Regions from separate parts of the Homo sapiens genome. Here all the other regions are linked to region 2. The links come from fine-mapping of genetic effects on gene expression. A gene starts in region 2. Each other region holds a variant in brackets. All regions are shown on one strand. Distances are between the middles of the regions.

Region 1 (2,760 bases), 540 kb after region 2:
ACCAAGGTAGGTTCTCAGAGAAGGGATATCTACACATCTTTCCTAAGCTCAGCTGCTTTTTCAGAATTTCCAGGGAAGCCTTTGAAACTACATATTCCAGGATCTCTCTCTGGATCTTTTGAAATTAGAATCTCTAAGAGAGGACTGCACATTTATGAGTTTCCCCAGGCAAAACAGAAGTGGTGGTCTGATCTGGGCTGTGGGAGGAGAAGAAATATCAAGGATGTATAGGAGCCTGGAGGTGAGGACAAGCCTGGAGGTGAGGAAGAACTGGAGGACAGTTGGATGTGACTGTGCCTGAGAGAACAGTGTGGGGACAGTCAGCTGTGGAGAGAAGGGCAGCCACGTCATGAGGGCCTGTGCACAGTGGAGAGGAGCTTGGCCTTCCTCTAAGGACAATGTTGTTGGATGAATGGGAGATGGCAGCTGGAAGGAACTGCTATCATGGGGGCTGTGGAGATAGCCGTGAGAATACAGGGGAGCCACACCAGAACCAAGTCCTTCTCCAGGGGTTTTAAACAGTCAGGGGGACTGGCATGGTGGCTCATGCTTATAATCCCAGCACTTTGGAAGACAGAGGTGGGAGGATCGCTTGAGCCCAGGAGGTGGAGGCTAGAGTGAGCCGTGATCACACCACTGCACTCCAGCCTGGGAGGGAGACCCTGTCTCAAAAATTAAATAAAATATAAAATTAAAATAAAATAAAATAAAATAAAATAAAAACCAAGAATCAGTTCCTTCGCTCTTGTTCTATTATTTACCACCTTGCCCCCTTCCCCTTTCTCTATATGCCTTCCCATGGGGAAAGCAAATGAGGTGGAAATATACATGTTGATGAGGTGGAAATATACATGTTGTTTACAACCAGCTGGTATACCCTTGCTCTTTCACTTGAATTAGCAGAAACGTACACAAATTCATGAAAGGAGAAAGGATGCAGCCCTAAGCCCTTTCGACCACCCCTCTGGCAGGCTGCCTTGTATTACTTCTTTCTCCACCAACACTGCTTTTGATGCTCATTTTAGCCGCATTTGCTTGTCAACCACTATCATGGTTTGTTTGCGCCCTCTCCCTCTGATGATGGGGCTGGACCCATGCCCCTGAGACACATGGTAGGATGGTATGCACACTGTCCACCCTGTCATATGACCATATCCTCAGATTACAAATCTCCTTCCTGGCTTCATTAGGGAGTCCTAATGTTGTAATGTAAGAATCTGAGTGGACTGGGTGCAACAATAAAGAAGGGATACATAACAGAGGAAAGGTAATCTTTCATCTTCATGTTCCAGGCAGCCCCACCCCTCCCCCTAAGGTGCACTGATGCTAGCTTGACTAGTGAAACTGGAAATCAGGAAGAGATGTCAGTAGGAAGATTTAGTAAAAACATTTAGCAGTAAGGTCAAGAGATAGATCTTTGAAAACCACAAATTTCTCCCCAAGCCTCTGTTTAAGTGAGTACACTTTCACTAATAAGAAGTGAGGTTTCCTGAAGCAGAGGAAGTAGATAAGCAAGAGAAAACCAACTCCTTGATAACAACAGTTAATA[C/G]CTTTACCAGTAACCACATATAAAATAAACTGTGCTGGGGGACAAATTAAAGACATCCCCTTCTTCCACCAGGTTTTCAAACAGGGACTTTTATTGAAAGAATCACCCAGCCCGGAGAATGTCAAGTTAAATGTAACTACAGATATTGGCCAACAGGTCACTCCAATCCTTACACAGCTTCTTGTAGCTCTATTTCTGGGGTTTCTAAGGGTGAGGGGGAAAGTAATTAAAGAATGGCTAAGCTTGGCTGGGTGCAGTGGCTTACACCTGTAATCCCAGCACCCAAGGTGAGGAATTCGAGACCAGCCTGGCCAACATGGTGAAACCCCATCTCTACTAAAAATACAAAAAATTAGCCGGGCATGGTGGTGGGCACCTATAATCCCAGCTACTCCGGGAGGCTGAGGCAGGAGAATAGCTTGAACCCAGGAGGCGGAGGTTGCAGTGAGCTGAGATCACACCACTGCACTCCAGCCTGGGCAACAAGAGCAAAACTCCATTTCAAAAAAAGAAAAGAAAGAAAGAAAGAAGAAAGAATGGCTAAGCTAAAACTTTGTTTTCTACTTTGGATTCAATCCTAACTATTTGAACCCCAAATCAAAAGATGGAGAGTCTGGGAGCTTTGGTTTCCCCTACTCAAAAGTATTTTCTCTTAAAGCTAGGCTAATAGGTTGGAAAGAGGACTCACAGCTTGAAAACACCTAATAAAGGTCATTTTGAAATGCAGACATTAATGTTGGCGAAAGAGAGCTTTCATACAACAAATCATACTAGGGAGTGTACAGCAGTGTCTTTCCATTGGATTCTTGTTTTAGAGGCAAAAAAATCCTCCCATATGAATTGAGTTATTATTCTAATGTTGTAGTTTAAATCTGTTAAATAAAGCCAAGATTCAGATCAAAGGTAAAGCAATTTAAAATAAAAAACCTAAGAGCTGAGCTCCTTAACTGAGCTCTGCTAAAACAGAGAAAACTTAACAAAATAAGAGTATCACCATCTTGAGCTATTCTTCCCAGGAGACGGAAAGAAAAATGGAGCAATAAACAGAAGCAGAGAAATGCAGGGGAGATAAGGAAGCCAGAGTATTCTGTTATCCATGGGCAGGTGGCTTGTCTGTGTCTCGCTCTTTAACTGAACCCAAATTCTGAATGTGTAAGTGAGGTAGAATAATAAGTCTTTCCTTCGGTGTTTGATATAGTCTGAAGCTTGTG
Region 2 (2,760 bases):
CAGTTGGACGAGAATGCTATTTCATTCCCTGCCAGAGTATAGAAAGATGCTACCAGCTCAGGTTCATTAATAAATTGAATTCTACATTCATAATTTTTTGTGTCTTGCTTTCCTGCCAGATTATAGAAAAATGCCATCAACTTGGGCTCATTAATAAGCTGAATTCCATGTTCATAATTTTTTTTTTTGCATGTGTTTTGCTTTAAGCATCTCTTAAAATACTGCTTGGTAGCTGCTGAGGGAAATCCATTGCTAAAATCACAAAACCTTGAAAAAGCATATTAGAGAGATTAACTTCCATCATAAAGATGTGATTTAAATTCCTGTTGGTATGAGGCCCTCCACTTGCGGTCTCTTATTAAAACAATATACCACAGTAAGTAGTGGATGTTCTTTTCTTCTAATTACTGTGATTGAAATCTAAGCCAGACAAAAGTAAATATTTGATCATTAGTTAATAACAATTGCTGACGACTTACTGTAAAGATAATTGCATACCCTTGCCTGCACTTACTTTACAGTGTGAAGTCAAACATGCCTACAACCAGATCCCATTTTAAAACACATTATTTAGGTTACATGGTACTGTTTAGACCCCAGTATAGTTTTTCATTTACTTAACAGTGAGTGATTTTAAAAGCTAAGTGGAAGCTGCAACTAGCTTAGGGATTTTCAGATATCCTGGTGCCTTACACTGTATATGTCAGATTCCTGTATTGATACTATGTAACTTTCAGTCATACTCCAGACAGATTACGGAAGGTGTACAAAGGCGGGGGAGGGAGTTTCATCAACCCACAAACCGATATCTCTGGCCGTCACCCACCAGAGGAAACGGCTTAGGGGAGCAGCAAAGGAACCAGGAAGTAAGATCTCCTGGTAAAGTGTTCATTAACTTTCAACAGCCATCAGATTTTTGAAAGGGAGTCTCTTCTAATTGCCTTTGGGAGGAAACATTATTAAGATAATTGGCATGCTGATCTGGGAAGGTAGACAGCTCTGTCTTGTAACAGAGGTAAGGAAAAGCCCCACAGCCCAAGGATCAACGTCAGGAGGGAGCCCAAAGACCTGAAATCCTCCTGCTCTAAACCGCCTGATCTCATTTCTTCTTCTCTCCTCCCAGATAAAAGTTTCCTTCGCCCGGGAGTCGGTTGTTCCCGGCTGATCCCGGGAAGCCCCGCCTGAGCCCCGGTCCGGGGCGGGCAGCTGGGAGCCGGGGCGCCGCTGTCACCCGCGCCTCTGCCTGTCACTTACCGTTGCGAAAAGCGCCGGCCGGGGCGAGGACGAGGGCGAGCACGGCGCAGAGGAGCGGCAGCCCCCTCTCCATTCTCCCTTCTCCGGGTCCGCAGGCAGACGCGGGAGAACGAGGACGTGGGGGGAAATGCAGCAAAGAGGAGAATCTAAGCGATCCGAAGAGCCCCAACTCCGCCTAGAGCTGTACAATCCTCAGCCCGTCTTGGAGAAAAGAAAGCAGCGAGGCAATGCCTGGATCCGAGAGGAACGCTTCTCTTTTTGTGTCTCAAGTCGCCTGCATCCTGTCATTTAGCTCCGGCTTCCTCTCCCTTTTCCCACACTTGTTCCTCTTCCAGGAGCCACTGCCCGGGCCATGTCTCAAAAAAAAAAAAAAAAAAAAAAAAGGCCGGGGGGGGGCTGTGGGTGGGAGGGGGAGGAGGGAGGTAGGGCAACACACACCAAAGCCAATTTCCAGGAAGAAAAAAAAAAAATCCGGCTTGTTTCTGGACCCGTTGGAGCCGCGGAGCTGGCGCCCAGGGGAGGTCCGGGTGTCTGCGGGAAGGAGGGGAACGAGCAATGAAAAGATGAGCGGGAGACAGAGGAGTTTCACCAACTGCACCCCCGCCTCCCCTCCTGCGGCCTCCCCCCACTCCGGAGCCCTTCCCTCGCTTCCTCCCGCCCCTCTCCCCGCTTGGGCTCGCCTGTAATTGCCTGACAGGAGACTGGGAGGAACAACTTTCCCTCCGAGTGCTCTCCCCGTCCGTCTGTCTGTCTTTCCCAGAGACCCTGCAGGGATCTCCGCGGGAAGGAAGGCGCTGGGAGTCTGCGCCCCGGTCGCGTGGGTGCGGGCGTCGGAGGAAGGGGCGCGGAGGTCAGTGCCAGCCGCAGGGTCTGGCCAGCCCACCTCGCGTGCTCGCTCTGCACCCCTAGAGGGAGAGCTGGGCAGCTCCTGCAGGCGCAGATCCCGCCGCCGCGCAGTGCGGAGCGCCCGGGAGGTGGCGGCTGCTTCTCGCAACTTCAAATCCCGGGGCCCGCGCCCTCGGCGGCGAGGAACGCAGGGTCACCCCCTGCCACTCCTCATCGCGCCATCCTGAGACCTGTGGCGGGGAGCAGCGGGGCACCCCTGGACGCCCCTGCCCAGAGCTGGAGGGCGAGGAGGGGAAAGCCGGGCTGGAGTGGGAGCCGCACCGCGAAGCCGGGCGAGGGGCAGCAGTGTCGCTGTGGTGTGAAGCGAAGACAGACCGCCTGGGCGGGCGAGGCCGGGCTGCAGCCCCACGCGGCCTCCCTGGCCCGCATCAGGGCGCGCGGCTGGGTGCCCTCTGCGCGCCGCGGAGGCTTCATTGTTTCCCGAGATTTGGTGCCCGTTCCTCTGGGGCAGAGGGAACACCGGAGGGTGGGAGGTGCTGCGCCTTCCAAGCAGGGGGGCAATCGCCGCCCGACCCCGCCCAACCTTGTCTGGGAGCCCAGGTGCTAGGGAGGGGTGTGGAAATCAGGGGTCGGGCGGCCCCCGTTTCTCTGTGCATCCCG
Region 3 (2,760 bases), 170 kb after region 2:
ACCTGGAAATGGTGTCAGACCCCACAGGTTAAGGGCTCAGTCTCACAATGCTTCCCCAACTTTAGACACCAATTGCAAGGTTAGTACATTGTCGCCTGTGCTTCTGACTAACCGTCTATAAATCGGGGGTCCTACTACTCCCTCCATGGGTTTAATTTGCTAGCATGGCTCACAGCACTCAGGGAAACACACTTACTTATGTTCACCAGTTTGTTATAAAGGATATTACACAGGATACAGATAAACAGCTGAGGAAGAGATGGATACCGTGAGTTATGGGGGTGCACAACTTCCACCCCGTCTCTGGGGCTCCACCCTCCCAGTACCTCCCTGTATTCAGCCACTGGAAACTCACCAAATCTTGTTGTTCAAGTTTTTGTGAAGCTTGATTTCTATTTGCCCCCCACCAACCCACCAGCTATCAGTAGGTGGGGCTGACAGCTCCAACCTTCTAATCCTCTAATCACCTTGTCTTTCTGTTGACTGGCTCCATACAGAGACTATCTAGGGGTGTCACCCTACGTAATCTCTTTACCATAAACTCAGAAAGTGATCAAGTGGCTTCATTATAAATAACAAAAATAGTCCTATCACTCAGAAGATTCCAGGGGTTTTAGGAACCCCATGTCAGGAACTGGGAACAAAGACCAAACATATTTCGTATAATACCCCAATGACCATTACCAATTGTCATAGCCATCCAAGGATACAGATGTATTTCATAAATAGTCCTCTTAGTGTGGCTTAGGGATAAAAGTTTGTAGACACCTGCTCCAAACTTTGAACATTGAATTTAAGGTTGGCCAACCTCAGGCACTCTGGTGTGTTATTTATAAATAATAATTCTTCACCCCCCTCGTCCTCTTATCTGTCATATGAAGAGCCCATGGGAACCCTTAGCATCAGGAATCCAACTAATTTCCATTTGATGGGAGGATACAGCTGGACTTCCTACCCCCATACTGACATTCCTACTTGGCAGAGGCGTGACACTACCCTTATTTAGGATTCAAGAAACTTGCTATTTAAGATTTAGGAAAAATTCCTTTCTTCCAGGGACATTTCTCTTGAACATGTTTTGTTTCACATGTAATTTAGTGGTCACCTAGGGGCCAAAGAAAAACAGAGACTTTTGTCTATTTGTTTATTTCTTAAGGCTATCATGAAAGAAAATCCACGAATAACTTGAGCTGTCAATGGAAACCTTTTTTTAGGACTAGATCTCTCCTTCACATTTAGGTAGTGACTGGGACATTTATGGAAGAAAAATAAATAATAATAATAATTATTATGATAGCTTATCATTGTTCAGCCTTTGTTCTGTGCCAAAGATACAGATGATCTCATCTCATTCTTACA[A/G]CAACCATGTGAAATTGGTGCTATGATTAATTTCAGTTTCACAGAAACTGAGGCCAGTGAGGTTAAGAAACTTCCTAAAATCACACGCAGCTAGTTAGTGTTGCAAAATCTGAACCCAAGCAATATGTCTCAGTAGCATGTGCCCTCTAGTATATATGTGTATATATATGTATAGGATAAAAGGATTCATACTTTTGTAGCAGGTATAAATCTTAGTCTATAAACTCAGATGCTTTATTTTCCATAAATCAATGTAATATCCTCTCTAAGCCCTTTTCCCACTGGGCTGGAGGAAATAAAAGCTTGACCATTCTTGAGGTTTCTCTATCACCATCTTCAGCAGATTTGAGCAGGGCTTGGGGATCTGCCTGACATGTCAAGATATTGGATAGACTAGGCCCCTCTGTTTGATGCCTGTTGAGAGGCACATTGTCCCTGGCCACGTGATAATCTCTGTTCTGTGGGCTTCTGTACCAAGCTTGGGACCAAGAGTCTTGGGGCACTTCCCCAGGTGTATCACACACTCACCTTCCCTGAGGTCCCGCCATGGCCTCAGGGAGCAGGAGCAGATCCTCATACTCTTGGACTAGGGAATTTTTTTTTCTTTTTTTTTTTTTTTTGAGACAGTCTCATTCTGTTGCCCAGGCTGGAGTGCAGTGGCGCAATCTCGACTCACTGCAACCTCCACCTCCCAAGTTCAAGTGATCCTCCTACCTGAGCCTCCAGAGTAGCTGAGCCTCCAGAGTAGCTGGGAGTACAGGCATGCGCCACCACGCCTGGCTAACTTTTGTATTTTTAATAGTGACGGGGATTCACCATGTTGGCCAGGCTAGTCTTGAACTACTGACCTGAGGTGATTCACCTGCCTTGGCCTCCCAAATTTCTGGGATTACAGGCGTGAGCCACTGTGTCTGGCCTGGACTAGGGAAATCTTAATTGCTCTGAGAAAATGCAATCTCCTCTTCTTTCCTCCCTCCCTCCTTCTCTGTCTTTTACTCTCTCTTCTCTCCCCGTGAGAGAGCTGCACTTTGCACTCTTTCTTAAGCCACCGATCTTCTCAATGGACTCAGAATTTTGACAGCTTTTACAGTAGGGAACCCTACCACAGCACGGACCTTGATACCTCTTTGAACAGGCGAAGGTCAAGGCAAAACACAGAGTGAAAGCTTCAATAAATATTTCAAAACACACTCTTGCCACATCACCTTTCGCTTATTTTTACAATATGCTGCACGCTTACTCACTCTCACACTCACAAACATAACTGCACAAACATCATTTCCCATTCTTTTGATGTTTAAATACTTTCCTTCTCCTATCAGATGAAGTTTATATTATCTAGGCTTTGTCTCTGACAATTCTGATGTTGTTGTTATGGAAATATGTCAAGACATTTCTTTG

Evidence for each region.
Region 1: its variant is fine-mapped to the expression of NRP1 in whole blood (TOPMed, PIP above 0.99).
Region 3: its variant is fine-mapped to the expression of NRP1 in whole blood (TOPMed, PIP 0.99).

The regions. Positions count from the first base shown.
Region 1 is chr10:33,870,287-33,873,046 of GRCh38, forward strand. No RefSeq gene overlaps it. Among named protein-coding and RNA genes, the nearest start is that of LINC02629, 32 kb to the right of the region's middle. The variant C/G (reference allele first, on the strand shown) is at 1,550.
Region 2 is chr10:33,333,056-33,335,815 of GRCh38, forward strand. It overlaps NRP1 (neuropilin 1), which reads right to left and starts at 1,612. Exons shown (of 17, transcript NM_003873.7): 1 at 1,255-1,612. The coding sequence starts at 1,327.
Region 3 is chr10:33,505,626-33,508,385 of GRCh38, forward strand. No RefSeq gene overlaps it. Among named protein-coding and RNA genes, the nearest start is that of LINC02628, 94 kb to the right of the region's middle. The variant A/G (reference allele first, on the strand shown) is at 1,360.